4 linked regions of the Homo sapiens genome follow. The protein of the gene in region 1 interacts with the protein of each later gene in a biochemical or structural test. Each region holds a gene or a part of one and is shown on either strand. Other genes may lie near its edges. The genes, in order: PAX3, RAD23B, POU3F2 and SOX10.

Region 1 (6,424 bases):
AAGTCTTAAAGCTACTCAGCCCTGGAACCTTTGAGGAACTATCTTTCTATTGCCCTAATACGGCTCTGCAAACAGGGTATCTTCTCCACCCTTCAATAGATATACTTCAAGGTCTTAAGAGTTAAATCCTTTCCTAATGAATTTTCTAACGCAGCGACTGCCAAAAGTTGCTTCATGAACAACATCATAAGCTGATTTTTGCTTATAGGAAGGACATGTTTCTTCTCTTCTAGGTCCTTCTTGAGTTCCCCCATCCCCTATAATTAGTTATTGCTGCCTTCAAAGTTATGCAAACAAAAAATGTATGGCAGGGGATTTTTTTAAAAAGTTTATCACAAAAATGTACATATAGCTCATGGGAAAGTGTGCATGTTTTGAATAAAATTCTGCTCTGAGCTCATCAAGTATAACTGTACATACAGCATTCCATTTCTCCCTTAAAGTGACATACCATTGACTGAATTTCAAGTAAGTATCTTCATGAAGGACAATATTAATTTAGAGTTTATTTTCCTTTTATTTAGTGCCACTGGATATCTTTCCTCTCTGGACTGATATAGTTACAAAATTGCTTTTTCTAAGATTTCGAATTTTGCTTAACACAACTTATTCATGGTAAAATATTTGCCCTGTGCGATTATTCCCTTTTATTAAAAAAATCACATTTTAAAGTGTTTTTATGTTCATGTCCAATCTCACCCATCAGGATCACACACGAAAATGTACTCCTGATTTGAAAGGAGTGTGTTTGGCACCAAACAACCTCTAACTTAAAGACTCTTTTCTTCTAAAAGAAATGTCTAATTTGGGCTGAAATTTCATAAATAATAAACTAGTGTATCAATTGAAGTTCATGAATTTTCCAAGTATACACTTATATAGAAATCATCTATATAAGCTCAAATAAAGGCAAAAAGAACCCATATAGATGGAAAACATATCCAGGAACTAATTTAAATGCATTCTTAGTTATGTTCAAGTTCTTTTAAGTAGTGAAATGAAGAAATTGCTATAAACAATGCTGGGTAGGGCCCTAAAAGAACCCACATTCTAGTGATTTTCCATCTTCCTGGAATTGTCAATCCTATTGATGCTTACTTTATTTTGTGACTTTCACTTTCTCCAAATCCCCAATAAAACAAAATTGGGCTCTGCCACAAATGATGTTTTGTGTGTTTTTTTTAAAAATATAACTAATTTTTAAAAATTGTAAAAAAGGATGTTTTACCACATATCTCAAAAAATCTTAGATTCCTGGGATGTCTTTCAAAATGTGGGCTTTGCTGTGTTGCTTTGCCCACACCAGCCCACCTTCCCATGTGTGTGCATAGACAATAACTCAAATGAAAGAGAGACAACAAAATGAAAAACAGGATTTCTGGGGAAGGCAGGGACATCCGTTCAAATTTTCTGTTAAAATGGAGGAAGAGTGGATAATTGATAATCCACAGAAGGTGGATCTCTTTTTCTCTGTCTTTTGGGGTCAGCTGAAGATGGATCAGCTCAGAGCTTTAGTTCAAGAAGATTTTACTTAATCATAAGGATTATGCAAACCCTTCCCAAAGGGAATTATGGGATCCTTGTTTTTGGAATCTGAGTTGAGATGCTTTCTGGGAAGCAAAACTAGACCCGCCCCCCGCCTCACCTGCCTCTCAGATTCCTGCCTTACTGGAACTCCTAGATCCGAGGTTCTATTGCCTGAATTATGAGAGTTATTCTGCAGTTAGCATGAGGGCTTATAGTCAGGGCTTGGTTGTCATTTCTGCCCTCTCCTCTTTCTCTTATTTGCACACTTTAATCTCTGTAGGCTTCACACTTCCTAAAATAAGACAGGACTGTTATGGAAATGTTGTGGAATTGTTGGATACTGCATTTAAATACTTTGTAAGTAGATGTGTCTTCGGGGGGGCTCTTGACCTGGCGTTAGATTTCTTTTGCAATTGCTTTTGAACCCTGCCACAGAAGGGTACATAGTTTAGAAAAATCGCTTCCTCTCTCGTGTGGCAGTTTTCCAGCTGCAAAATTAATTATCCACTTACTTTCACCACAAGGTGCTGTAAGGGTCAGGGATCTTGAGTTGGTGAAGCACTTCACCATGTTGATCTGAAAGTTATTCTGTCACAGGATATTTTTTTTTTTCCAAGTTGTCTTACTGTCCAGGTTATTTACAAACTGAACTTTTTAAGACCATGTTTGCATTTCAGGCTTGTCTTTCCTTTTAACACTTCATATATATATATATATATATATATATATATATATATATATATATGAAATGGTTGTTTAGAGAAGAAATAAAATAATAGGTAATGGAGGCTTTTACTTGGAGAATCATTTACATTTCATTCATTCGGCACTTAATATGTGTCAAGCATTCACTGCTTTAGGTGCTGGGATATAAAGATGAATAGATTGCTCCTCTCAAAGCTCTCACCAGTCAAAGCAGGTGACTGAACTAATGAATATACAGTGGGAGGGGTAAATAAAGTACCAGAGACCATCAGGAAAGGAGTAAATATTTCTAATTATCAAAGAATGGCCAAGATAAGGAAAGGGGCTTTCTTGAGAGGGAACACTATTTAAAAAAAAAAAGGCACAGAGATCTCAAAGTACATGAAAAATAACTTGATTTGGATTCATTTATCTTTTAAAAATATAAGCAAATGACTGTTTAAAAATCACATGTGAAACTTCCAGATATAATGTATGAATAGACATTTTTCTGTATGAACAGATACAATTTCTCCCTCTTTTCATCCTTTTTTCCCCCTTCTTTGAAATTCCAGTCTGATTTTATCACTAGGGACGTGGTGTAATCTCTCTCTTTCCTCTTCTCCTTCCTTCTTTTCCTCTTCCCCCTCTTCTCCCCTCTTCTCCCTCCCCCTTTCCTTCTTCTGCAACTGCAGTCAGATGTTATCGTCGGGCATGATGTAATATCTCTGCCACTTAGAATTGGGTTCATAGTCTCCTGGACAGCTCTTTAACCAATTTCCAAAGAAATAAAAACTGGACTGTCAAGTTATTCTTTCAGCTGTAGGCTGCAATCTGGATCTCTCTGCATTTTAACCTCTTCCCAATCTGGCTGTTTTTTTAGGTAATGGGACTCCTGACCAACCACGGTGGGGTACCTCATCAGCCCCAGACTGATTACGCGCTCTCCCCTCTCACCGGGGGTCTGGAACCTACCACCACGGTGTCGGCCAGCTGCAGTCAGAGACTAGACCATATGAAGAGCTTGGACAGTCTGCCAACATCTCAGTCCTACTGTCCACCCACCTATAGCACCACAGGCTACAGTATGGACCCTGTCACAGGCTACCAATATGGGCAGTATGGACAAAGTAAGCCTTGGACTTTTTAGGGGGCAATTTCTCCTGGAAGGGAGATAAACTCAACTCTTCCTTAAGAAAGGTGAATTAGAGGCAAGATTAAGCCACACATGCCGGTATCAATTTTTTTTTTTTTTTGCAAAGCCAGCTGACTGTTCCAGCAGGGGCTTCCTTGTGTAATTATTTTCTTAACTGATGTCAACAACATCTTGCGGTTATTAATTGTTGAGACGTGAAACCTGATTGCCACTAGGTAAAACACAAGGGTTGGCCAAAATGAAATAATCCCTGACATTAGAAACACATGTTCTTAATGAGGTCAGCTCCAGGATCATATGGGGGATAATCCCAGGGACACAAAGTTGTGTCAAACTTGTCTCAGGAATAAAAATATTAGTCTCAAGCCTTTGATAGCACGGTATTAAATATGACATTGTCAGCCTGTAGCTGATCTTGCCCCTGACTGTGAATTGTCCCAGCATGACCTAAAAAGCTGCGTGTGTTTCCTTACAGGTGCCTTTCATTATCTCAAGCCAGATATCGCGTAAGTGAACTGTCCACTTGGAGCTAAAACTGGCCCTGTTTCTGGTCTTCGCAGCCTAGATATGAAGAATCTGCTCTGAAAACAAAAAAAAATTACCCTTTTGTTGGGGGGGGTGGGGCAGTGGTCCCAATAGGAGACAAAGGAGAGTGATTGATTTTCTTCCTCCAATAGTTGGTTTCAAATCCTTTTGAACACGTTCGACAAAAGCAGTGGAGAAGAGGAAGACCTGGAGCAATAAAAGACAAATGCAACATTTTAAGGCAATGGTTTCACATGGTTACATATCAAAACATCCCAATTCTTTAGTGCTGATCATCGAGGAGCTAGAACATTCCATTTGCTTGTGTGCGTGCGTGCGTGTGTGTGTGTGTGTGTGTATTGAGATTTACCCAGACTGGTTTGGGCAAGCAGACTGTTCTAAAATATAATAGAATACCCTAAAGTATAACATGTCGATGTTCGATGCTGATACTTCTACAACTTTAAAACTGCTCATTTCATGAAGCAAGAATGGAGGAATCCTTGACTCTTACACACTGGAAATTGAAATAAAGATAAATGCAACCATTTTTAGGAAGCTAGACTAGCTGTAAAGGACCTCCTAAATAAATTATTTGTTACTGTATCCTCATTTGTAATCTAGTTGTCAATAAATGGCCCGGACATGTCTTGCTAACAGGATATGGGCTACCAGGAAGAAGGACTTGTTTCCCTTTCCTGTGTGGGGAGAGGTGTGTGACGTTTTTCCAGTTCACATTTATTTGGTAGCCCACCTGGGTTGGAGGAAGGGCACGGTGGAGAGAAAGTGACATGCATTCACATATCTGCTTATCAGTGTGCAATACTGTGTACCTCATGGATGCTTTGGCAATGCCCAAGGCGATATAAGCAAAATCAGAAGTATATTTTTGCAGGTGCTTTTATTTTCACAGCCCATAATTCATAGTGATAGAGTGCAGTGATGTTTGCCATTTGCTGGACAACCAACACCCGGGTTGCTCCTTTGATTAGAGACCAGATCAGATAATTATGCTTTTAAACTGATTACGTTTACATTCTTCTCTTTTCTATGAAAGGCAGGGCAAGAACAGAAGTGTTCACATGGCTCTCATGTACTTTTAAATTATACAATGATATCCAATATTAAAAGATTATAGGAACTGAGGTTTACATACGTTTGTGTGGTGACATTTTAGAATGTCAATAAATTTGCTTTTTGAGATGTTGAGAGGAACAAGAAGGTGGAAGGCAGTGTTATTTATTTCTTTCTATTCTTGGAACCACGAATGAGGTAGGCACAAATACATTCCTTTTAGAGTTAAGAACTATGACGTAGCGAGTTAGTGAGACTAGACATAGTACCGAATTTAGTTCATGCATTGGTCTTAGAGGGTGATGGAACAAGAGAAGTACTATCTTTGTGTTGCAGCCTCAACCAACAACAATGTGTTGTAAAAATGTCTTTCATGTAAAAAGTGCAGTAAATATTTACTATTTATAATGAATAAACAGTTATGAAAACTTGCCCACTACTGCTTTTTTGGGGGAACTGGTGAATGTAGTATAAATGAAAACTTGGCAATGGGGAGCCCAATGTACATGAACTTCACTTCTGGTGGACCCTTTCTATGAGAGTATTCTGTCGACAAATAAGGTTACACAACCCACAGTTGTATTCTCTTGAAGAAGCTTGGTTGAACACACTTTTAAGGATTGAAGTTTATGTTTTTATCAGTGTAGCATCTAGAAAAACCCTTCAGTTTAGCTTCCTTCATCTTTCTTTGGTTCTCTCAGAGTTATCCAGTCCCTTTACTGTCACTTAGAGATATGTTTTCCCTGGAGTACCCGGTTCCATCTTCATCTCTAAGTCATCTCCACGGAAATTTTTATTTAAAACTCTCATATTTTATTTATTTTATTTTAGCAGCCTACTTTATTCTTCATGAAAGGTATTACTGCGTACTTCATTCATTCTTCCTTTCTTCCTTCTCCTTCCCTCCCTCTCCTGATCCTTTCTCCTCTCCCTCCCTCCTTCCCTTCTTCCTGAATGTATTTAATGAGAGTCCAAATGTGCCAGGCATGGTGATTGGCACTTGTGTTATAGCGGTGCTTGTAGCCTAGTAGAGAAGGCAGAGAAGTAAATGCATAGTTTCAATAAAGTGTGAGGACTGTTATTTTAGAAGGAATAATCATAATACCTTTTGAAGCTCTTACTTGTATTAACTTATTTATTACTCTCCACATGTCACATGCAGCAAGTGATGTCACTACCATTCCTTTTGTACAGATGAGAAAACTGAGGCTCAAGGAACTTACATGAATCACTCAGTGGCAGAGCTAGGATTTGAACCTAGTACAATCTCAGTGCCCAAGGTGTTTAAACTCATGCTCTTCTGCTTCCTCAAGACTGGTGTGAGAGAACCTTACAGTCAGGAAGATCTAAAAGGGTGCTGTCCAATTCAGAAGCTACTAGCCATGTATCCCTATTTAAATTTAAAGAAACAAAAGTACATAAAATGACAAAATTAGTTCCTAAGTTGCACTAGCCACA
Region 2 (7,812 bases), on another chromosome or scaffold:
GTCACAAAATACAAACAGCTGTAGTGCCAGTGAAGGCTGGTCATAATATAACTCATGCTCTTAGATCAAGGAATTGTGCTGTATGATTTCCAACCAAGAGAACTCTGACTTAAGCATTTGCTTTGGTCATTTTACCTGATCGTCTGGGGAGAAAAACAAAAGTCTTGTCTTAAACTGCTCAATAATCCTAACTGCCTAAGCAGCCACTTAGTTGAGGTGTCTCTGCTGTCAACTTCCCACAAGAAATTATTTCTTGCTCCTCAAATATCTCAACACTCTTTTCCTTTTTTTTCCCCTAAAGATCCACACAGGCAGAAGCCTGAATTTCTCACAAGTTCACAAAGATACAGATACAACAGTGAAAAACTGAAATAGTCCATAGGTTCAGGTTACAAGAGCTAACAAATGTCAGAACCAAACACAATGCTATATAACTACGGGAAAGATTTACTAACATGGAAGGATGCTTATGATATATATGACAATGACCACAAAGAATACAGATCAAGTACAAATGATGATCAGGGTGGCAATGTCATGATGTAATCCTTATTCATTTTGGTTATTTGTATTTCCTAACGTTTCTACTCAAAAAAAAAAAAATGACTTTCACCTGCTTTCTCCTTTCCACTGCCCCCCACCCTGCCCAAATCAACAGAGTACAGAAATCTGATTATGAAAATTTGTACTTATATTCTCCTTAGTAAGCTATCAAAACAGACGCAGCATATGTTTTAGTCAAACATTTAAAAAAAGCTTAACGTAATAGATATAGTCGGTTTGATCAAAACAATAATCAAAATAAATGCATGAAGTTCCTGTTAAACACGGATTTTGAGATAGAATGTCCTAGAATCCAGTTCCTACCTGTCAGTTGCTGTTGGGCTAGTAGCCACTGGTGTCTCTGCTGGCTTTTCTGCAGGCTTCTCTTGTTTAGCTGCACTAGCAGGTGCAGGTTCAGAAGATGCTGTCGCTGATGCTGGAGTGATGGATGCAGGTGTGGAAGTGGGGGCCAAGGCAGGGACAGGGGTTGGAGCCTGAGCCACAGTTGTGGTGGTGGAGGAAGTAACTGCTGTAGTGCTGGCAGGAGCTGACTGCTGAGTTGTAGCTGGTGCTGGTGTGGACACTGCTTTGGGCTAAACACATTAAAAGACAAAATAATTACAATAAAATACTACATACTGCCTGATCTCTAATTAGACTGTACCGTTACAGGATGCCACAAACATAGCACTAATAACAACCTATAACTTGAAAATAATTTTGTAAAATGACACAATAAATGATCAATATTAACAATCTGACTCATGGTTACTCTTTCAAAGCTCATGACAGCGTATGTTAATCTTAACTATCAACCACAATTAATTTTACCCAACAATTTCCATCTTCATATCAAGTTAATATAAAATAAAAAATTTGAAATATATATAGATATATAGATATATATATATATATATATAGATATAAACCGTATCATTTTCCCAAAAAAACTTTATGTACCTAAGTTGTAACTTTAAGGTACCTAATACCACTTAAAAGCATTAATAAAATAATTTTCTTTAATTTTAAAGACAGGGTCTTGCTACCTTGCCCAGGCTGGTCTTGAACTCCGGGCCTGAAGCAATCCTCCCACCACGGGCTCCCAAAGCGCTAGGATTACAGGCATAAACTACTACATCCAGCCCAAAATAATGTTCTTGAAATGGCAGTATAAATGTTTATTTATAAACATGTCAAATATTCTGTTGTACTGTATTTTTAGAAGAGGGAGGAAAATCCCAAAATTGACTACAAATCAACAGATCCAAGTACAAAAAGGTTCACAATACTTTCAGACATATATGTAATTAAGCAGAAAAATAAAGGCCAAATTAAGTTACCTCCACACGCTCAGCACTTTCTGAACTGGAAATAGAGCCATAAAGCTTCCCACAGAGCAAAAAAACAATTAGTTGACCCTTGAACAACAAGGGTTTGAACTGCACTGGGTCCACTTACATGATAATTTTTTTCAATATAAGTTACACTGAGTGTGCCTGCCTCTCCTTCTACCTCCTCCATCTCTGCCACCTTGAGACCGCAATACCAACCCTTTCTCTTTCTCAGCCTATTCAGTGTGAAGACAAGGATGAAGACCTTTATGATGATCCACTTACACTTAATGAACACTAAAAATATTCTCTCTCGTGATTTTCTTTTGTTTCTTTTTGAGAGAGGTTCTCACTCTATCGCCCAGACTGGAGTGCAGTGGTATGATCACAGCTCACTGCAGCCTCAACCTCCCAAGGCTCCTGCCTCAGCCACTGCCCCCGCCCCCAACACCAGGTAGCTGGGACTACGGGCTCACACTACCACTCCCTGCTAAATTTTTGTATTTTTTTTTTTTGTAGAGACAAGGTTTCGCCATGTTACCCAGACAGGTCTCCAACACCTGAGCTCAAGCGATCCGCCCACCTTGGCCTCCCAAGGCGATGGGATTACAGGCATCAGCCACCACACCTGGCCATGATTTTCTTAATAGTTTCTCTAGCTTACTTTAATACAGTATATCATACATGTAACATATAAAACATGTATTAATCCACTGTTTACGTTATCAGTAAGGCTTCTGGTCAAGAGTAGGCTATTAGTAGGTAAGTTTTGGGCAAGTCAAAAGGTATATGCAGATTTCTGACTGTAGGGGAGAGGCCAGCACTCCTAAGCTCAGTGGTGTTCAAGGGTCAACTGTACATGTGTAAAAATCATACATGATTTTTAGTCTTCTCCTAAGGCCTCTCAATGCTCGCTACCTGTTTAGTTCATAACTTTCCCAAGGACAAAAGGTAGCTGTTTTAGTGGAAGACAAGGCTTAAATTCAACATAATTTGCCACAGGCATAAACAAACTCTAAAACCAATGAGCTGCCTTGTCTTTTTGATTTGAACTAATAAAGAAGACACTAGGAAAAAGGTTAGTGAAAGGTGATAGGTTTTTAAAAAATACTAGTAGCATTACTCCCTTCTTTTCCTATTTAGCTTAACTTTCTTAACAGCCAATATAATATTCTGCAGATTATTACTGTTCTAAAACTAAAATGAGCTGAAATCCTGAGATCATTCTGGATCTTCAGTTATTCTGGATAAACTGGAGCTTCACAAAGGTGAAAATTTAGAGTCTTAAGCACCAAAACTTTATAATAACCAATCTAGATAAAAATGTATTTTTAAAAGTGGTATACTCATTTAATATTTTCCTTAATTGTTATCAAAATAATATTGCAATGTAACTTCCCTTCAAGGTTCCTACTGCCAAGAACAGCTACTTATACTTTATTCTAAACAGTACCAAGCCCTTCTCTGCTTTTTAGTTTTTATTCTTGCTTTTGATCTTAATAGCTTTTTCCTTTCCCTTCTTTGTATTAATAAGGTCATTTCTCAGTGCTTCCATAATGCCTTACTGTAGCAGCATTCCCTCCCTTTTCATAGTTGTCCTCTATTAACTTCAAATAAAACAATCATAAATATCATTAGAATCCTATGTAATATTAGGAATAAAAGACTTTAAGGAAAAACAAAAGGACTGTATGCAATATAATGATAGGCTTCAAGTATCTATTCCTCAAACACACGCACCTATTGAGACTTTTTCTGCTTAATTCTTGTGTTCTAAACAGTCAGGATCACTGTAATATTAAAAGAAACTAAGACCAGTAACAAAACATATTTAAATGTGTGGCTATCACATTTCCCATTATGTACTATGTATGCTAAAACTAGATAGGAAAATAGGATAGTATTCAGTCTTAAAAGTTCAGCAAATTCTGGCACAAGCTATAACATAGACAGATGAACCTCAATGACATTATGCTAAGTGAAATAAGCCAGTCACAAAAAGACAAATACCATAGGATTCCACTTATATGATGGTGATAGCTGCAAAACAATGTAACTATAATGTTATTGAACTGTACACTTAAAATGATTAAACTGGAAGTTTGTTATATTTTACCACAGTTGAATAAAAAAACCTAGATGATACAAGGTTTCCTCACGATTCTGCTTGTTTTTAAACTTAACATATAATGACTTAAGTTCTTAAGTATAGCAAAATCAACATGGTTCTTAATGAATTAAAAAATGTTCAACACTTGTAAACTATTTAGCTGCTTGCTCCCAGTACAAAAGCATGTGGTAATTAGAATTTATTTCTTCGACTCTATTTTCTATTACTATTAACTATTTTGTGACTTTGAGAAAAAACCCACATTTAATCCACTTTTGGCCTTTGATGAAGTGGTTTCAATTAGTGATTTAAACTCATTTTCAGTGCTACAAGTAACACTGTTCTTTCTCAGATTATGACAATCCAATCCTAAAAATGAATGTCATGAGTACCACTTCTCCATTTGTCTCTTAATTCTACACTGCATTATATATCTTTAAATAAACAAGTATATAAATAGTCTCTTAAAAAAATCCATGTTCATTCTCTGCTTTAAAAAAAATTTAATTTTATAAATTGTTCCAAATACATTCCAGCCTACTAAATCACAAAAAAGTATCTGTTTAAAACTTCCAGGCTGGGCGCGGTGGCTCACGCCTGTAATCCCAGCACTTTGGGAGGCCGAGGCGGGCGGATCACGAGGTCAGGAAATCGAGACCATCCTGGCTAACACGGTGAAACCCTGTCTCTACTAAAAATACAAAAAAATTAGCCGGGCGTGGTGGCATGCGCCTGTAGTCCCAGCTACTAGGGAGGCTGAGGCAGGAGAATGGCATGAACCCGGGAGACAGAGCTTGTAGTGAGCCAAGACAGCGTCACTGCGCTCCAGCCTGGGCAACAGAGCGAGACTCCGTCTCAAAAAAAAAAAAACAAAACAAAAACAAAAAAAACTTCCTCATAAAAATCATTCCATCATTTCTTTAGTTATCTTTTCCCTTTTTTTAGTTTCTAAAAACATATTCTTTCACTAAGAACTATCACTGTAATAATAAGCTTTCATGCCTTTTCTGTCTTGAGGAATCTGTTAGGACTAGTACGTAATTTAGCAGGTCTATTTAAGGCAAGCTTACAAAAACTACAGAATAAACATTTATTCCACTTATAAAGACATTTTAAAAGAATTATATAATGATTTCACTACTGTAGCAAAAATAATTTTAACATGACATTTTATTTTTCAATTGTTTTAATTTACATAAAATTTTATTAAAACTATATTATAGTTTAATGTGTAATTAATGTAAAACATTAATAACTTTATGTTTCACTTAAGGTAAATTCTTAAAAACCTTTCATAGTAGTTAAGTGTACACCACTATGGATGTGTATAAACTGTGTCCATTGTGTGGACTTGTGATCATCATTTTTAAAAAGACCTACATGCATAAAGATATACAGAATGAGGTTGAAACTTACTTTGGTCACCATAACCACCACAAAGTTTTTCTCATCAATTTTATATTCTTTGAGAGCAGTATCATCATTGAGGATTTTGCCTAATACATTAAGAGAAAAAAAAATCATTTAAGGCATAATCTTTCTCTTACACTTCAGTTAAAACAACTTTCTACTCGAAATATGAATATTTCAGAAATATTAAAATATGAATCACCAACATAAATTCTATCAGTTAATACTTTTCCCAAAGAAAAACCAATCAATCAAGATAAAAATAAAACAACTCCTAAGTGGCAGGGCATGGTGGCTCACACCTGTAATCCCAACACTTTGGTAGGCTGAGGAGGAAATATAGCTTGAGGCCAGGAGTTTGAAACCAGCATGGCCAACATAGCAAGACCCTGTTTATGAAAAAAAAAAATTCAAAATTAGCCAGGCATTGTGGCACATGCCTATGGTCCTAGCTACTTGGGAGGCTGAGGCAGGAGGATCACCTGAGCTCAGGAGTTCAAGGATACAGCGAGTATAATCACACCACTGCACTCCAGCTTGGGTGACAGAGCAAGACCCTCTCTCAAACAAATAAAACTAAAAAGCATAAGCATTTGACTAAAAGATGTCAAACTTATATAGTGTATATAGAATGACAATCAATTTTTACAAATGTATTGATTATATAAAAGACTTACTGGGCAAGGAAATATGAAAGAGGCCCTGAAAAGGAGGAGATCATGAAGATAAAGAAAATTCAATACTCCGATTGCACAGGGGTCCTCTGGAAAATAACCTATATTCTTTTATGATATGAAGAAAGGGAGAGAAACAAATTTCCTGCTCCCCAAAATACTGATATCTGATAAATCAGAAATGTTCTAACACTATCAAAGCAAGATACTAAAAGTACTTCAGAAAACGACATGATACACAAGAAAGGGCAAGATGCTACAGAACTTAGAAATGCACGAAGTACACAAAACTGTGGTCGTGCTGAAGGTCACTATTAGGTAGCTAGGACTCTCTAGTGTTTCTTGCTACATGAATTTAGTTTTCCACCTTTAAAAAGCTATTGAATCAAAAGCTGCTAACATTAAGTCAGAAAGGAATATGGATAGGAATGAGAAAACAGGCCAAAACAAGAAACTGGAAATTTGAATTTTATGTCCGCTTCTTTAGGCTTCTGAATTCTGACCTATAAAAATAATGGGACTGAATCACCAGGTTAGCATTTCCTCCAGGCTGTCTCACTTTAGGAAACACTATTCAGAAAAAGAGAAGAATCCATGGGTGATCAAACACCCACCTTACTAACATCTACAATGAAAGCATTTTCTCTAAAAATTTGGATATCAAATGTATTTTTAATATACATTTTCCTGGTTATTAGTGAGGCTAGTCAAATGTATAATTCCTACTCTTATCCTTTGTTGCTTTATTGGTCATCCTTTCCTTACTGATTTCTAAGAATTCTTTACATAATCTGAATATTAATTTTTTTTCTTCCTGTAGGTGTCTGTGTGATGTGTTTTTTCTGTACTCTTCAGTTAGTTTTGGTTAAAATAATTTTACAGGAATGATTCCAAGCATACTAATAATAACACAATCAGTATAAATGGTTTCAATTCAATTTAAAAAAAAAAGCTCCGTTTGATTAAAAAAACAAAAGCCAGTTACACGATGCTTACAAAAGATAAAACAAAACTAATACCATTTGATGGAAAAATACACAGGGCAAATGTGAATAAAGAGAAGATTGAATATTAATATTAGATTCAAATGACTGCTCTTTCACTGCTTTTATTTGTACAATCATTTTTCTGACAATTTGAATATACTACAATATATAAGATAACATTTCTAAAACTAAAAGAATATCAAGACATGGCATGTTAATTTTAATATTTAATTCATACCTGCATAAATTAATTTTTGACCTGCTACTGGAAAGGCATCTTTCCCCTTTTCAGATTCAATCTTCTCTTTCAGTGCTTTCACCTATAGGAAAAATAAAGATTTGTTTTGGAAAAAGTCTAAATAAAAAATGACAATCCAGAATCTGAATAAATAATGGAAGACAAAAATTATATACATAATTATTAATGTTTCCAAAACCTCAAATATTATGTTTTTCCAATTTATATCAAAAAAGATTCAACATTAACTCATATTACTAGTTATGATAGCCATAAACTTTAACACCATCTGATACACACAGATTTTTAAAAATTTACTAGTTGAACTGATAATTTAAAATAAAGTTTTCAACATCAAAGTTTTGGTTTATATACTGTTCATGGGTTTATTTCCCACGGAGCAAGAAAGTAAAGCTTGATCACCTAAAAAATCTAAGAAATAAAACAGTCTCATCAACAATAAGAATACTTCAATGTTAAAGGTTAAATTGTGAATGTTAAAAGGCAAATGATTCATTTT
Region 3 (8,701 bases), on another chromosome or scaffold:
CTTGATAAACAAATGAGCTAGTGAAGACAAAACCTGTCTACTGCGTGGAGATCGTCAGTGTATGCTGTGGGTATCTGTGTGCTAAAAAACACAGTCTTATGCATACACTATTAAGTTCCTGGGTCTTTTTTTATGTAAAAAAAAAGCTATTAGAGAAACAAAGTTTAACTGCTGCTGTCAGCACAAATAATTCTTCATAATTGTTACTAAAACTGAAGGTAGAGAACTATATAGGGATATCTGAAGATATGTACTTCCCTAGTTCTCTTCAAAGTGCCACTTTCTTTCTGCTGGACAACTCTGGAAATATATTTAACCTCCACATTTCCCCTGAGCTCTTTCACAATGGGCCCGCCTGATAAAATGAAGCAATCAGTCACTCACTATCGATTTTTCTTTTTTCTTCCCTCCATAACCTCCCCCAGAAACACTGCCTGAAAATGAAGTTTACTTTGTGGCTGGTAAGAACAACCAATGCTTATTTTTATATTCCAAACCGGATTCTTGCCTTCGATAAAGCGGGTAGACCATGCACATTTCCTGAAATCAGAGAATTGTCTATTTTGTATGAAGCCAATCCTTTTGCTTTGGTAAGAGGAACAAATAGATGTTACACCCTCGTAAGGGGAATGTGAAGGTAACCAAAGTTCACAAACAGTACGAAGAAGGGGCAACACAAGAACATTAGAAATGGAGAGTGGCCAAGAGCTGGCTTCAACTCTCTCCGATGAATAAAGCAAAGCAAAACAAAATCCCCCAAAACGGCAACTCCCAAATTAACGGTGGGGAGAAAGAGAAAATATGCTCATGAATTTGTTCACGTAAACTTCAATTTTCTTGCAGTGCAAATTTATGTGGTTAAATTTTGCCTATATGAAAGAACATGTGTATTTTTTCCTCTTTCCTGATGGGAATCCACAATAAATAAACACAGCAGCATGTGCCAACTCTAAGCATCAGGAAGCTGCATTTTGTGTTTATCATGGTTTGGTGGATTTTTTTTCCTTTTTGGTAATTTATTTAGTTTTGCCAGGTATTTATCTCAGTGCTTGCCATCTCTCTGTCTCTCTCTCTTTCTAGCTATCACACACTCTCCTCACTCTCTCCAGGAGACACTCCACTCCATTGCCTGGTTACTCGCCTGCAAAGGTCAAAACACATCATTACACCTGCTACCTTTAAAGGATAGTCCAGTGTCTTAGTTGCTTTCCTTTTGCCTTATTTTTTTTGTCTTTTTAAGGGACGGGGAAATAATAATTAAAAATAAAAGAACAATCAGAAGTTAGAGAGGGAACAAGAGGGCCGGGAAAGGGCCAAGGACCGAAGGGGAGGGGGAGCCCCGCGCTCTGCCCCTCCCCCAGCTCGAGTTCACTGGACGGGCGTCTGCACCCCGTGGTGTGGTGGAGTGTCCCTACTCCCCCCGTACACATCCTCGGCGCCCGGCAGAGTCCCTCCGGGAGGGGTCATCCTTTTCTCTTTCTGTCTCCTGTTACAAAACCAAACTCTCACCACCTCCTTCTCCAGCTGTAAGCTGTCCGCGAGGGAGGTGATCTCCTGGGCCGAGGGCTTGGGGCATTTGAGGAAATGGCTCTCCAGAGCCCCCTTGACGCTCACCTCGATGGAGGTCCGCTTTTTCCGCTTGCGCCCTTGCGCTGCGATCTTGTCTATGCTCGTGGGGCTGCCCGAGGACGAGTCCGCCTCCTCCAACCACTTGTTCAACAAAGGCTTCAGCTTGCACATGTTCTTGAAGCTCAGCTGCAGGGCCTCAAACCTGCAGATGGTGGTCTGCGAGAACACGTTGCCATACAGGGTGCCCAGAGCCAGCCCCACGTCCGCTTGGGTAAATCCCAGTTTGATCCGCCGCTGCTTGAACTGCTTGGCGAACTGCTCCAGGTCGTCCGAGGTCGGCGTGTCCTCGTCCGAGTGCGGGTCGTGGTGCGCGCCTGGGTGGCCAGGCGGACCCTGCGGGGGCGGCGGGGGCGGCGGCTGCTGGTGTGGGTGCGAGTGCGGGTGCGGGTGGTGGTCGGCATGGTGTGGCTCGTCGTGCGCGTCCCGCAGGCCGTGGTGGTGCAGACCGGCCGGCTGCCCGCCGGCGCCCAGCATGCCGTTCACCGTGAAGCTGGGCTGCGAGTAGAGCAAGCCGCCGTTGGACGCTCCCATGGAGGGTGGGAGGTGCGCTGCAGCCGCCGCGCTCCGCCATGCCCCGGGTCCCGGGTGGTGGTTAGCGGCGTGGTGCACCAGATGCGGCGGCCGCTGTTGCTGCTGCTGCTGCTGCTGTTGCTGCTGTTGCTGCTGCTGTTGCTGTTGCTGCTGCTGATGCTGCTGCTGCAGGGCGCCTGGCCCGTGCAGCTCGTCTCCGCGGCCGCCCTGCTGCACCACCACCGAGGGCTTGATGTCCGGCTGGCCCAGGGGGCTGGTGGACCACGGGGAGCCGTCGCCGCCGCCCCCGCCGCCGCCCCCGCCCCCCCCGCCGCCGCCACCGCCCCCGCCGCCGCCGCCGTGGGACAGCGCGGTGATCCACTGGTGAGCGTGGCTGAGCGGGTGTCCGTTGCTCTGCAGAGCGCCGTAGTCGCCCTGCACCAGGCTCTGCGCTTCGCGGTAGCCCCCCGCGCCCTGCTGCATGCCGCCGGGCGGCTCGGCGTGCACGATGGAGGCGCTGGAGGTGAGCAGGCTGTAGTGGTTAGACGCTGCGGTCGCCATGACTCTCGGAGCCGGACTGAGCGCTCCGGTTAAAGGAGCCGCGCATTTGACAGTTACTTTTTCGCCTCGGGCTCCCTCTCCTCGCTCGCTCTTTCTGTCTCCTCTCTCTCCCACAGCGGGCAGCTCCGACGCCCGCTCCGACGCCTTCTGTTGCTGCTCCTGCTATTACTGCTGCTGCTGCCGCCGCCGCCGCCTCCCGCCCGCCCTCGCTCTCTTTCTCCTCCTCTCCCTCCTTCTCGCTCTCGCTCACTCTCTGACTAGCTCGGCGCTCCCCCCTCTCCCTGCTCTCTCCAGCTCTCTCCCGCTCTCTTGGCAGCGCCGGCTCGCAGCGGCACGCGCCTGGGCCCCGCCCCCTCCGCCCCCTCCCATTGGCTCCGCGCCCTTTGATTTACGTGGATACCGCTAGCAACCTCCCAGGCCGGCGCCACTGATTGGCGCAGAGCTACTCCCTCCCCCTCCCCCGGGCTCGGAGTCCTCCTAGCCCTCCTCCCCGTCCCCTTCGCCTCCCGATTCAGATTCTCTCAGTTCTCACCCCCCCGCTTCTTCCTCACCCGGGGCCTCCTCCGCCCTCTCTCGGATGGGCCCCGCCCCCCATCTGTCTCCCAGGCAGAGAAGACCGGCAGGGGGGCGGTCCCGGTGCTCTTATCGGCCACAGACACTTGGAAGACTTGGATTGGGGTGGGGGGCGGGAGGCAGTGGTGTCCACTTTCGTTTCCCAATAGGGCTTTAAGATGGGGAAACGGAGGGGGTAAGGGAAAAGCTGGGTCGCACCGAGCCAGCGGGAGTCGGATTTTTATTCACCTAGGGACACACACACAGTGTGTATCTCTTAAACCTAGAGCCAAGAGCCAGACCTGTTCCCCTGTTCAACTCTCCTTGCATCCCACGGTTAGAATTTCAGTGCACAAGTGTCTCTTGCTCCAGGGTGTGCGGACACTTCGGCCCAAAGCTCTTCTCCTTCCCCTCTACCCCGCGGCTAGCACAGGCTCTCTTCCTTTTAGGTTCCAGGCCCAATTGTCTCCCACTCCCTTGGGGAAAGAACCCCGAGAGAGGCAGGCTCAGCCCGCACCGCGGCTTGTAAGTCATTCCCATCAAGGCTCGGAGTTGCTTGCTCTGACAGCGTAGCGGTCTGAACTGAAAACCAAACAAAACTCTAAAAGTCTCTCCGTCAGATTCACACGCCGGCGCGTGCAGTTTTTGGTTTAGAAAACTAGAAGCCTGCGTGGGCTCCGTCTTGTGCGAGGCTGCCGGAGTGCTGGCGAGGGGTGTGCGGCCTTGTAGGGGCGGCGCAGTCGCCAAAGGCCGCTCCGGGAAGCCGCGCGGAGGGCCTGCGTGCGCGATTCCCCGTGCTCCTACCGCTGGTAGGTGCAACTTTTCCGTTAGCCCCTTGGGAAGGAGGAAGAGTGTGTGAAGCAAATGGGCTGATGCCAGGGGAACCTTCCTAATCAGTAACTTCGGTGGGCGCTAGCGGGTGGGGTTAGTCTATGTCTTTGGCGCTCCCTGGCCAAGCTCCCAGCTCAGCTTTCAGCAGTGAACTCCAGAGCAAGACTATGGGACCATGCACCCGCAGCGCCGCTCTACGGAGCGCGGGCGCGTCGCGCCATCAGTTCTTTAGCCGCCCAGAGCAGGTGCCGCCTGCGAGTTTCCGAGCCTGCAAGCCCGGTAGCTAGAACTTGGGCGCGGACCCAGGCTGGAGCGGCGTGACCGCCACGCAGGGCCGGGTGTGTACATGGGCGCTGTAAAGCGAATCAACAGTTACTGCCGGGAAGGGAATGACAGACCCCAGGGAACCTGGATCGCGTCCCCACCTCTCACCCCTCGCTCTATCGCTGGTTTTGCCGGCGGTCGTAGGCTTGAGAGGGCAGCCAAATCAACGCTCAGAGGGAGCATTTTGGGGCCTCTGAGCATCTGAATCCAGACAGCAGACTGGAGCGGGCCAGAAAATTCATCATGACTAACAAGGAGTCATGCTCTTTGGAGAGTGGCTGAGCTGTTTATAAATCACCACGTTGAGCACCCGCCCGGGCAAGACGCTTTGGCTGAGAATTTCCACGTGTCCTGTGTTTATGAGCGTGTGTGGGGGAGAGAAATGGATAGGGGAGGGGCGAGCCCACAGGCCGCCAGCAGGACGGACCTGCACCCCCACCACGCGCGCACCCGCGCGGCGAGGCGAGGCGAGGACACACACAGCGTGTCGCTCCGTCCCAGCGCAAGCGCGGGGCCACTCTGGCCGCGCGCCTGGGGGCTGCTAGGAATCCCATAACTTTGTCTAGCTAGGAAAAAATGAACAAGTCCGAGCCTCAGCGCGCAGACTCAGCGACTGGTGCCCGCGGCTCCGCAACCGCGAGCCAAGGGGCTGGGTGGCGGGCAGAACCGCCTTCTCCCGGCTTCGGCCCTGCGTCCCCTGTGCTAGGCGCGTGACTTTCCCTGGGCCTTGGGGAGCGCACAGACAGCCCGCCAGCCGCATCTTCTCCTGACATGTCGTGCCTTTCTTTTCGCGGACCTGGAGCTCAGAGCTCCCACGGACAGAAGAATCCAGCCCTGGGGAAGGGCCGCGTCCAAGTGCTAAGCAGCTCATACTTCTCCCCCACCTTTCTGGGGCAGGTGTCTGCTTTTCTCTGGATTTAATTTCACATTTCTCGAGGCACAAGGCCTTCTGCAGCCCATAGGATGATACACTCGAAAGAAGAATGAAGTTTTCAAACACATCTTCGAAGGAACTGAGGCGGCCTGGCTCTGAATCAATTTAAAAGTTCCTCCTCCTCTTATCTTTCTCTCCACACCCCACCCCACACCCCCGCCCTCCTCCCGGCATAGGGCGCTAGTGTGAGGGGACAAGAATAGGCTGCACGTGTACATCAAAACTTCCTGTCTGCGATAGGACATCACCGGCGATTAATGCTGAGATCCTTCCCACGTTGACTTCCCAGGTCTCAACTCCAACTTCCATCCCCGTCTCATTTCGCTGGCGGCCAAGGAGCCGAAACGTTCCCAACAGGGTTTAATATACCCAATAAATCCCCGGGAGTACACAAAGAAATAGCCTACCCGGGGCCTCAGTCTCTGCACCCCACCCCCACCCCCAAGCGCGGCCAATCACCGGGCGGGCCAGGCTGGGCTCGCACCGCGGCTCTGAGCAACACCTCCCCACGAGCTACCGCCGCCTCCCCTCCAGGCGCCAGGGGCCCGGTTGGCGCGAACGCCGGGTTCCGAGCACCCTGGGCTTCCTTGTCTGCCTCCCAGCGCGGCACCTCTTCGGGGCTCCCGAAACCTGAGCTCTCGCTGGTTTTAGGTCCAGACTGGGGCCTCTCCACCGGTTCCTCCCCCGCCCCGGGCTCTGGGGCCCATTCTTTGGGCTGACCCTGTCAGGGCAGAGTCCGCGCGTCTGCCTGCCATTCTCCGCCCGCATAAAAGCACGTTGAAGGTGTCTCGGGCAGACACCTCCAGGTTTTGAATCAGTTTATTCCCTTTCACTGTTCAAAGCAGCTGTTCAAATACACAGGCTGCTTACGTTGACGTGGAGAGGATTTCAAACAACGCTAAAATGCTTTGAACTGACAAGGTGTCTTGATATCTCCCTCACTCCATCCAGCACAGCTCCTCGAGATCACTCGCTAGGACAATGGCTGAGCAGGCGATTCGTGCGGGCCTCGCCACCTCGGGGCGCGGACTGCGGGGTGTCCTAAGCCCCTTCCGCAAGGACAGGATGGAGGCACCTGTAAGGAGATGCTGGCGCCACCCCAGCTTCTCCCAGGTCCGGAGGAACCTCTACTCAGTCAATACCCTGAGCTGGACTTGTCTGAAGAAACGGAGCCGACTCCCTCTTGCCGGGGTGCGCTGAGTGGAGGGGAAACATCCTCGAATAACAGAACTACACCAAAAAGACACCCATGTTATCTCTCACACTTTCACACTCCTCGAGATAGTGAGCCGGACCTGGGTCTTAGTAGCACCCAGTACCTTGACACAAACCTCCCAAATTTCCACCTGAGTAACAGTTATGGGGTCAGTCCATGCACTGTAACTTGAACTCTAATTTATTAACTATTTCATCTAGTAAACACACTCACACCATATATAAAATAGCATTTATTTATTTCTATATACCAGGAGTTGGCAGAAAACCCACCGTGACCACTCCCATACATTGAGCTGGAGGCACACAATTACTAAAACAGAGGTGAAATGGTATTCATTTGATCTTAATTTTTTCTTATTTATGTAGTCCCAGGATAATAGAAATCAGGAAACAAAAGAAAACAAAGAATTTTCTGAGGAGATGGCCATTGGGGGAGTGGAGGTAGCAGCTGGTTTAAACCTAAGTAAAACTAGAAAAAGAAACTGCTGTTTCCTTTTTCTTATATCCACCTTAGAGGATCATGTTTGAACGTCCCTACTCCTCCTCCTCTTTTTAAAAAGCCTTGTCTCAGTCATTCATTCCTGTGCTTCCTGCTCTTCTGCTAGACCCCAGCAGCTGTTTGATTTGGTGAGGCCCCCCTCCAACCTCTGAGTGGAACTTCTTTTCTAAGGGCCTGCAGAATGTCAAAACTGAGGCTCTGGCTTCGGAGCTAGAGCTTTGAACAGCCAATCCACACAAAAAGGCAGCTGGCTGCTTTAATGAAAACTGCTATAAAGCTTCAAGAACTTTAGCCTTGGGGGATGCATTTATAAGGAACATGGAAAATGCATTTCCAAGTTGCTGGTTCTTGGGAGAGACATAATAAACATTTACCAAAAAAAAAAAAAAAAAAAAAAGGATAGAACTTACTATCTTTAATTATGCAGCAGCATATTTTTTCCTGAAGAAATAAAGCTTCCAATAAATTTGTATGTTACTGTCTATACCTATATTTTGCAAATTCCTAAATGTGCATCTGTCCTTGTGTAATAAAAGGTCTTGAAGAATGAAAAGTTTTCTGAAAGTTGAAACTCTCCTACGTCATATGCTTGGCAACTCTGTCCATACCTCACATACAAACAATTCTATTTTACCTTCACTACTGTGTAAACCAGTGAAATATAATGTCCTTAATTCAGTATTTGAAATAAAATTATCTGTATTTATAGATACTAATATCTTTCCCTTTTTCTTCAAGTTATAAATTTTATCATTAAAACAGTCCCCCCTTTGTAGTCTGCAAGTGAATATTTTATATACAGGGATGGCTTGAAGACATCTAACACCATGTCACCCAGATAGTCTAGCTGTTTCAAGGATTACTTTGAGTAATTTATCAAAGGAAGCCTGCTAAATCCTGAGCGGTGAATATGAGGCCTTAGGAGGGAGAAAACATAAAGGAAGCATTCCGTCGGTGTATAAGATAAATTCTGTTTGGAGGAGTTAATATAGCTTGTTTATACGAAATCTCAGAAACAGAACAAAAATCTCAGAAACAGAACAGGAGACAATTGGTGGCTTCCAGTTTGCTTCCCGCAATTTCACTTTCAAAGGACTAACAGTTAAATGACCTCTTAACAATGGAGCCTAAAGGTGTCTGTGTGTGTGTGTGCGCGCGCGTGTGTGTGCGCGCACACGCACACACAGGCACGCTCGCATTTTCTCCCCCTAGCCTTAAAGCAGGTGGATGGCTGGCCACCAGTAGGGGATGACAACTCTTTGATAAATTAAAGTGATTTCAACAGAAACCTCCTTAGCTCTAAAGCATTTGGAAATGTACTGGGATGAAGCTCTTGCTAGAGCTCCTGGCTTCTCTCATCCTCTGGAGCAATTTTCGAAGAGGAAGGCAAGCTAGGGACGAGTGCACTAACATACACCTGCGCACAGAGGCGGACTGGGGAAGTGGGAGGAGGGTGTACTCAGCTATTTCACTGAAGCCATTTTCAAGGGCTAGGGCTGTTGCTCCAGCCCTGGGATAAACAGGCGTATTTGGTTGAAGTTGGACTTCAGTTCTCTTATTCTGCCTGCACACAGCACGAATGCAAATCCTTCTGAAGTGTACAAGTGCACTTAACAATTGTGTCGTTAGTGTCCGGGAGGACG
Region 4 (7,812 bases), on another chromosome or scaffold:
AGGAATCACAAAGGTCACATAGAAGTTGGTAGCAGAGCCAGGGCCAGAACCCAGGACTCCCATACTCTCTGTCCAGAGGACTTCCCCTGACCCTGGTGACAGTGGTGGATCACCTACACTTTGAGGAGTGGTCAGGAGGTTGGGGGGAAGCAAGAAGATGAGAACAAGAGTGAGGAGCATCTGGGTTCCAGAAAATTAGGGCTTTGTCAGAGGAGCCCGGCTCTCTTCCGCTGCCCTCCCCCTTGCCAGCCACAGTTGGGTAGAGATTGGGTCTAGAGGCTTAGAGTGGTAGAAGGTGCAGGAGGATCTCCAAGAGACCAAAAGATTCACATCCCGCCCCCTGGCCTGTTCTTGCCATGTGTTTGCTGAAGACCTGGTGCCCCTTCCCCTGCCCCTTCTCAGCCCTCAGTGCCCTGCTCACCCAGGGCAGGCCCAGGGCTCAGCGACCAGCCCGCTGTGTGGACCCAGACAGCCCAGTTCTGCCCAAGAGCAGAGGTCACAGCTAGCTCCTCCACCCAAGGTCCATCCAGATCTGGGTGGGGCTTGGCCCAGGCCAGTATCTTTAGTGCCAGGGGACAAAGAGCAAGTGAGAAACAGACAACCAGGAGAGACATACAGATAGGGCAGACTCTGGGGACCATGAGAAGACCACAGTACGAGCCCAACGAGAGTCAAAGCAAGGACGGACCTCATTTTCCCTCCATCTCCCATTGCCAAGGGTTTAAGATTGGCTCCTCCATTGTCCCTGTCCCCAGGTTCCCCCAGCCCAGAACCCTGGGCTTGGACTCCCTTCAGGAGGACTTATTCTTGGCCATCACTCAAGCTGTGTGCACAGGGGCCAGCCTGAGGTGTGGCAGTCAGGAAAACTGGCACTACTTGCTGAGGACCCAATCCCAATGGGAGGATGGGGCCAGAACCATGGCAAGGATCAAAGGCAATGCCAACAGAGGGTGGCTCCCTGGACCCTGGAGGGGGGTCCTGAGAGACATTTGGATTTGGGCTGGGCTGGCCAATTGCTCCAGGGGCTTCTCCTGAAACCTCCCCAAGCTGTGACTCCTGGGATGTCAAGAAGTGGGGTGGTTAGGTAGGCAGAGCTGGAAAACAGGTGTCTTAAAACCAAAAAGAGAAAGATACACACAGACTGTGTGGAGTGCCCCAAGGGAGTGTGGGATCAGACACACTGGAGCCCAGGTCCTAAGGGGCCGTGTCAGCCCCAACAGTCATTCTAACCTTTGATGCCCATCTGGGGAGGGGCTAGTTGAGGCTGATCACAGGGTGGTGCCTGTGGGTTGGCTGATCTGCCTGGAAAGAACCAGAGCCAAGAAACTGGAAAGGCGGACACAGGCAAGAGTCCCTCCTGTGTGGTGGGGGTCACCCAGCCTCTGTTCCCAGTGCCACAGGCCCCTTCCCCAAGTAGTCTTCTTATGCCCCTGGCCTAGCAGGACACAGGTAGCAGCAATCAGTGCCCCACTGTGGGAGGTCCCCGGTTGGGGTTTCCAGTTTGGGTGAGGAATCAGCCTACCTCTTCTTGCCCCCATTCCAAACCTGGGAGACCAGGGAGAAAGAGGGCTGACAGGAAGGTGCAGATGAGGACTGGGTTTGGAGTTAGAGCTGGAGGCGAAGTTGGGGGTTTGGGGCTGGTAATGTTGAGTGGGGACTGGTGCTGGAGATTGGGTTTACATGGTGGGCAGGCTGGGCTTGGGGTTGGGGTGGAGGTGGAATCAGCTGTCCGGCACAGCTGGTGGAGGAGGGAGCTGGGGTCGGGGATGGCAGTGGCCCCAGGCTTAGATTTCTGTCAGGGTTAGGCTAATGCTGGGAACTAGCTTAGGAGGTAGCAGCGGAATCCGATGTTGGAATCCTCTCTCTCTTCTGGCCCCTGTCACTTTCTTGCTGATGCTGGCTGCCAGCTGGGCAGGGGGCAAGGGAAGGATAGGTGAAAGAGTGAGCTCTGTGTCCCATGTCCCCAGCCATCCCAGAAGCCCCTCTGTTGGGGTCCACTGCTGGCGGAGCAGCTCTCTCCTCTGTGGGTTCTCCCCAGTCACACCCTCAAGGCCTGCTCCACCCCCTCCCCTGGTCCCAGCCGTCAGAGAGGGTGCCCACATCCCACTCCCTGACTCTCAAGGCCCTGCTCCGGCATCTTTGTCCTAAGTGTGTACACTGACTCTGACAGAGTCTCGGCTGGAGGGACCCTCTGAGAAAGCTGGGGCTAGGGCTGGGCTCAGGGCCGGGGTGGGGGGAGTAGACAGGGAGGCTAAGCCGCAGAGGAATGCTGCTGCCGGCTAGGAGGTGCCTGGCATGACCACCCCCGCCCAGCCTGGGGAGGGAGGGCTCGGCCTTCTGCTGACTGGGGGAAGAGGGCACTCACTGGGGTGTGAGGGGTGGGGCAGCTGAAGAGACAAGCCCTCTGGACTGACAGACAAGGCTGCTCCCACAAAGACTCATGGATTCTCAGTACCAAGGTCTGGGATTCTAGAATCTGGACTTTCCCCTCGACCCCCTCTGTAAGGTACCCCATCCTGCCCTCCTCACCCTGGGGCAGCCAAACCCTAAATGCCCTCCACCCTCCAACCCTGGCCTAAGGCTGGAGTCGGTGGCAAGGGCGCTGGCTTCAGGGCTTCTTCTCTCCATGTGTTGGTTTCAGGGACTGTTCCAGGGTCTGAGGAGAGGCTAGCTTCCTCTACTCTCTGCTATTTTCTGGACAAGGATATAGGATCCCCCACAGGAGGCAGTACCCCCCACCCAGACCCATGGTAAAGAGGAGCCACATCTGCCCCCTCAGTCCCACCACACTGGAATTCACACAATCAGGACCCAGAGTTAAGAGTCCAACCCTAGATCCTCCTGTCCAACCACCCCCGCAAGCAGCATTAGAAAAGCACCTCTTGGGGCCGGGCACGGTGGCTCATGCCTATAATCTCAGCACTTTGGGAGGCCAAGGCGGGTGGATCACCTGAGGTCAGGAGTTGGAGACCAGCCTGGCCAATATGGTGAAACCTCGTCTCTACTAAAAATACAAAAATTAGCCAGGCATGGTGGTGCGTGCCTGTAGTCCCAGCTACCCGGGAGGCTGAGGCAGGAGAATCGCTTGAACTCAGGAAGCCGAGATTGCAGTGAGCTGAGACCGCATCACGGCACTCCAGCCTGGGCGACAGAGTGAGACTCTGTCTCTAAATAAATAAAAAATTAAAAATAGAAAAGTACCTCTTGGGCTGGGCACAATGGCTCATGCCTGTAATCCCAGCACTTTGGAAGGCCAAGGCAGGCGGATCAACTAAGGTCAGGAGTTGGAGACCAGCCTGGTCAACATGGTGAAACCCCATCTCTACTAAAAATACAAAAATTAACCGGGCGTGGTGGCGCATGCTTGTAATCCCAGCTACTTGGGAGGCTGAGGCACAAGAATCACTTGAACCTGGGAGGCAGAGGTTGCAGTGAGCTGAGATCATACCACTGAGCTCTAGCATGGGTGACAGAGTGAGATTCCCTCACAGAAAAAAAAAAGAAAGAAAGAAAAGCACCTCTTCCTCAAGGTGCTCAGCCCGCTTCCCAGGCCCTGGTGCAAGGCATCTCACATCCATTATTCTGGCCAATCCCACACCCAAGTTAAGCCAATGTTATCATCCTTTTATAGGTGAAGAAACTCAGGCTCAGAGAAGTAATTTGCTCAAGGTCACACACACAGCTAGTAAGTAGCAGAGACTGAGTTCTCCCCCAGCCATGCTGCTTCTATTGCCCACCCTCAGTCCCAGGGAGCTCACCCCCACTGAAGTAGCCAATTCCACTTGCAGACAGCTTTGATGATGAGAAAGTTTTTCCTTTCCTTGAACTGGCATCTGCCCCTTGAAACCTCTACTCCTACTTCTAACTCCTCCTCAGGGGCTGCCAGGAGCAGCGGGCTGACCCCTCTCTCACCCTCCAGCCCATGAAAGATTTGGGGGCAGCCCTCTGAGGCTGTTATTCCTTGGGCCTCACATCTCTCAGTCCACAAATCATAGGGCACAGCCCCCACCCCGGGTCCTGTCCTCTGGGTGCCCCATCCCAGGGCCTCACATCTTCCAAGATGGACACTCAGAGGGAGGCCAACCTGGAGTGCTCTGGCATTCACGCCAGCCCCTCTGCTGTCCTCTCCGCCTCCCACCACACCCCAGGCTGCTGAACGAAAGTGACAAGCGCCCCTTCATCGAGGAGGCTGAGCGGCTCCGTATGCAGCACAAGAAAGACCACCCGGACTACAAGTACCAGCCCAGGCGGCGGAAGAACGGGAAGGCCGCCCAGGGCGAGGCGGAGTGCCCCGGTGGGGAGGCCGAGCAAGGTGGGACCGCCGCCATCCAGGCCCACTACAAGAGCGCCCACTTGGACCACCGGCACCCAGGAGAGGGCTCCCCCATGTCAGATGGGAACCCCGAGCACCCCTCAGGTGAGTGCTGATGACAGAGCTGAGGGTGGGGCAAGGCCAGTCAGTGGAGACAGGAGATGGCTGGATGGCAATGAGACCCTGGACTCTAGGGAGAGCGTGCCAGGCTGTGCAGTTGCCCCAGCAGAGCTGCAGGGGCCCAGAGGGAGCTCCATGGGGGTTCCGGTGCCAGGGGAAGTGGCTGGGTGAGATGGCTCTGGCCAGGGCTGATCCTACTGGGCAAAGAGGGCCAGTTAAAGACTGTGGAGGCCGCCGGGTGTGGTGGCTCACACCTGTAATCCCAGCACTTTGGGAGGCCGAGGAGGGCAGATCACGAGGTCAGGAGATCGAGACCATCCTGGCTAACATGGTGAAATCCCATCTCTACTAAAAATAAAAAAAATTAGCTGGGCGTGGTGGCGAGCACCTGTAGTCCCAGCTACTCAGGAGGCTGAGGCAGGAGGATGGCGTGAACCCAGGAGGCGGAGCTTGCAGTGAGCCGGGATCGCGCCACTGCACTCCAGCCTGGGCGACAGAGCGAGACTCTGTCTCAAAGAGAAAGAAAAAAAAAAAGACTCTGTGGAGGTCATGGAGTGAGAGGTGGCTGGGGCAGTTACAAGTAAAGGGGGAGAAGACAGGATGGTTTTGAGAAATGGAAGAGCAAATGGAGGAGAGGAAATCACTGCCTCTTTCCCACCAGCCATTCTTTTTTTTTTTTTTCTGGAGACAGAGTCTCACTCTGTCGCCCAGGCTAGACTGCAGTGGCATGATCTCGGTGCACTGCAACCTTTTCCTCCCGGGTTCAAGCAATTCTCCTGTCTCAGCCTCCCAAGTAGCTGGGACTACAGGTGCACACCGCCACGTCTGGCTCATTTTGTGTATTTTAGCAGAGACAGGGTTTCACTATATTGCCCAGGCCCAGTCTCAAACTCCTGAGCTCAGGCAATCTGCCCGCCTCGGCCTCCCAAATCCCACCAGCCATTCTGACAGAGGAGACATGGCATGTGATACCGTGTCTGGCCATGGATGGGCCAGACATAAGCTATCTTGTTTAATTTTCATTAATGATAATAACAGCTAACCTTAATTGAGCAGCTACTCTGTTCCAGGCACTGTGCTAGGTGCTAGTTGCCTTATGTATACTAACTCAATCCTTGCAAACAATGTGATGAGGTACCCAAACTGCCTGGGCTCAGATCTCAGCTGTGGCAAGTTACTCTCATTTTACTGATGAGAAACAAACAGGAACTTCCCCAGTTTGGCTCCCGGGCATCTGCTTGGCACCACAGCTGCCTTGCCTGTGTTCCTAATGTACAGAAAGTGACACACACAGGTCTGCCACATGGGAAGTGCTCAGTGAGCAGAGCTCTGCCTTCAGAGGACACGCTCTGAGTCCTACTTTGTGTCAAACACTGGAGTGGACACCAGGGGTACTAACCAGAGAAGCCTACAGTCCCTGGCCTCAGGGGCCCATAGTCTAGAGAGAGGAGCAGGGATGAAAACGAGTGAATTAAGTACAGGAAGAAACAAAGCTAGGCATGGTGGAATGCGCCCGCAGTCCCAGCTACACAGGAGGCTGAGGTGGGAGGATCACCTGAGCCCATGAGTTTGAGACCAGCATGGGCAATGTAGTAAGACTCTGTCTTTTTTTTGTTTTTGTTTTTGTTTGAGATGGAGTCTTGCTCTGTTGCCCAGGCTGCAGTGCAGCGGTGCCATCTTGGTTCACTGCAACGTCTGCCTCCTGGGTTTAAGCGATTCTTGTGCCTCAGCCTCCTAAGTAGCTGGGATTACAGATGCACGCCACCACACCCAGCTAATTATTGTATTTTTAGTAGAGATGGTTTTTCACCGTGTTGGCCAGGCTGGTCTCGAATTCCTGACCTCAGCCTCCCAAAGTGCTGGGATTACAGGCATGACCCAGCACGCCCAGCCTCCTATCTCTTACTATATATATAGTATATATATAGAGAGAGAAACAAGTGCACAAGAAGTCTGTGTGAGATCCAGAGGTGGCATGGCCGTCTATCCCATCCAGTCAGGTCTCCAAGAACACCCCACTGCCCACCAGACTCTTGTCAAGGAAGGCTTCCAGAAAGAGGCAATGCCTGGGCTGCTTGGTACAATCTCTATTTTACTGATAAGGAAACTAGTTAAGAGAAGACTGGGGATTTGTCCAGACACAGAACCAGGATTCAAAAGCCTAGGCAGGTCTCTTGAAGTACAGAGCCCTTGGCCAATGCAGGACTTGGCGCTGCCTCTGGTCTGATGAAGGAGGCACAGGCCTGTCCTTGGGGAGCTCCTAGTCTCTTAAGACCATGGACATGTTCTGTCTCCATTGGGATGCCAGGCAGTCATCCCTCCCACACACGTGTACATACTCTTCACCTTCAAAGATTCAGGGACACACACACACACATCAGGAGACCCTGGACCACATACAGAGCAACCACCTCAGAATGAAACTGGACACAGACTTTTTCTCACCCTTCAAGGCCCCACCCCACTCAGACATCCTTCCCTGATCAAACCTTCCCCAAATCCCTGAGGCAGCGGGTGGACTCCTCCTCTGGTCTCCCAAGTCCTTGCATATTGTCACCACAGCACTTCCAACTCTGGGTGCATGTGGATCTATGGATCTATGACTAGACTATGAGCTTTTGGGAACAGGGATCCATTTTATTTACATTAGTATCCCCAGCACCTGGCACAGTACCTGGCATTTTGTAATGCTCCCTAAGAGTTTGCTAAATTAATATGTGAATAGGAAAGTGAACAGACAAAGGAACAAGGACCAGTTTTCTAAGTGCCCTCCCATGGAGGAAGGCAGCTCAAAGAACAACAGGGCAACACAGGCCAGCGTATGACGGGGCTAAGGGCTTGCCAGTGGGCTGGGAAGCAGGGTGGGCTCAGGAGGAGGGAAGGGTTGGAAAGGACACAACATGAGGCCAGGACAGGGAGCAGGCCCAGGCAACCAGCAAAGGTGAAACAGAGCACTCAGGAGCCTGGGCGAGCGAGGCTCAGCAAGGAAGACAGTAGGCATGGGTGTGGAAGCGGGGCTGGCAGAGCGCAAAGGCTGGGCCAGACCACCTGGACAGCAGAGAAGCTGATGAGAGGAAGAACTTTCCACAGGAAAGGTTTTTTCAGAATGAGGCAGGCCTCCCCAGGACCCATCCCTAAGATTTGAGAATTTCATAAACAACTAGAGATCAATCTAAGACACCAGTATTTAAACAAATGCTGTGGGGCGCAGTGGCTCATGATGGTAATCCCAGCACTTTGGGAGGCCGAGGCAGGTGGATCACCTGAGGTCAGGAGTTCAAGACAACCCTGGCCAACATGGTGAAACCCCGTCTCTACTAAAAATACACAAATTAGCTGGGCATTGTGGTGGGCGCTTGTAATTCCAGCTACTCAGGAGG

What was found.
Region 2: the proteins of PAX3 (region 1) and RAD23B form a complex in vitro, tested with the Homo sapiens proteins (one study listed by BioGRID).
Region 3: the proteins of PAX3 (region 1) and POU3F2 form a complex in vitro, tested with the Homo sapiens proteins (one study listed by IntAct).
Region 4: the proteins of PAX3 (region 1) and SOX10 form a complex in vitro, tested with the Homo sapiens proteins (2 studies listed by BioGRID and IntAct).

What each region holds. Positions count from the first base shown.
Region 1 is NC_000002.12:222,198,861-222,205,284, reverse strand, and holds the end of PAX3 (paired box protein Pax-3), read left to right. Parts: intron 1-3,094; coding exon 3,095-3,341; coding exon of another isoform or gene 3,342-3,361; exon of another isoform or gene 3,362-3,572; intron 3,573-3,842; coding exon 3,843-3,877; coding exon of another isoform or gene 3,878-3,881; 3' UTR 3,882-4,044; coding exon of another isoform or gene 4,045-4,111; 3' UTR 4,112-5,398; downstream 5,399-6,424. UniProt on the Homo sapiens protein: Transcription factor that may regulate cell proliferation, migration and apoptosis. Involved in neural development and myogenesis. Transcriptional activator of MITF, acting synergistically with SOX10.
Region 2 is NC_000009.12:107,299,703-107,307,514, reverse strand, and holds part of RAD23B (UV excision repair protein RAD23 homolog B), read right to left. Parts: intron 7,375-7,812; coding exon 7,293-7,374; intron 5,481-7,292; coding exon 5,401-5,480; intron 1,137-5,400; coding exon 868-1,136; intron 1-867. UniProt on the Homo sapiens protein: Multiubiquitin chain receptor involved in modulation of proteasomal degradation. Binds to polyubiquitin chains.
Region 3 is NC_000006.12:98,828,873-98,837,573, reverse strand, and holds the start of POU3F2 (POU domain, class 3, transcription factor 2), read right to left. Parts: upstream 3,001-8,701; 5' UTR 2,701-3,000; coding exon 1,369-2,700; 3' UTR 1-1,368.
Region 4 is NC_000022.11:37,974,472-37,982,283, reverse strand, and holds part of SOX10 (transcription factor SOX-10), read left to right. Parts: intron 1-4,148; coding exon 4,149-4,417; intron 4,418-7,812. UniProt on the Homo sapiens protein: Transcription factor that plays a central role in developing and mature glia.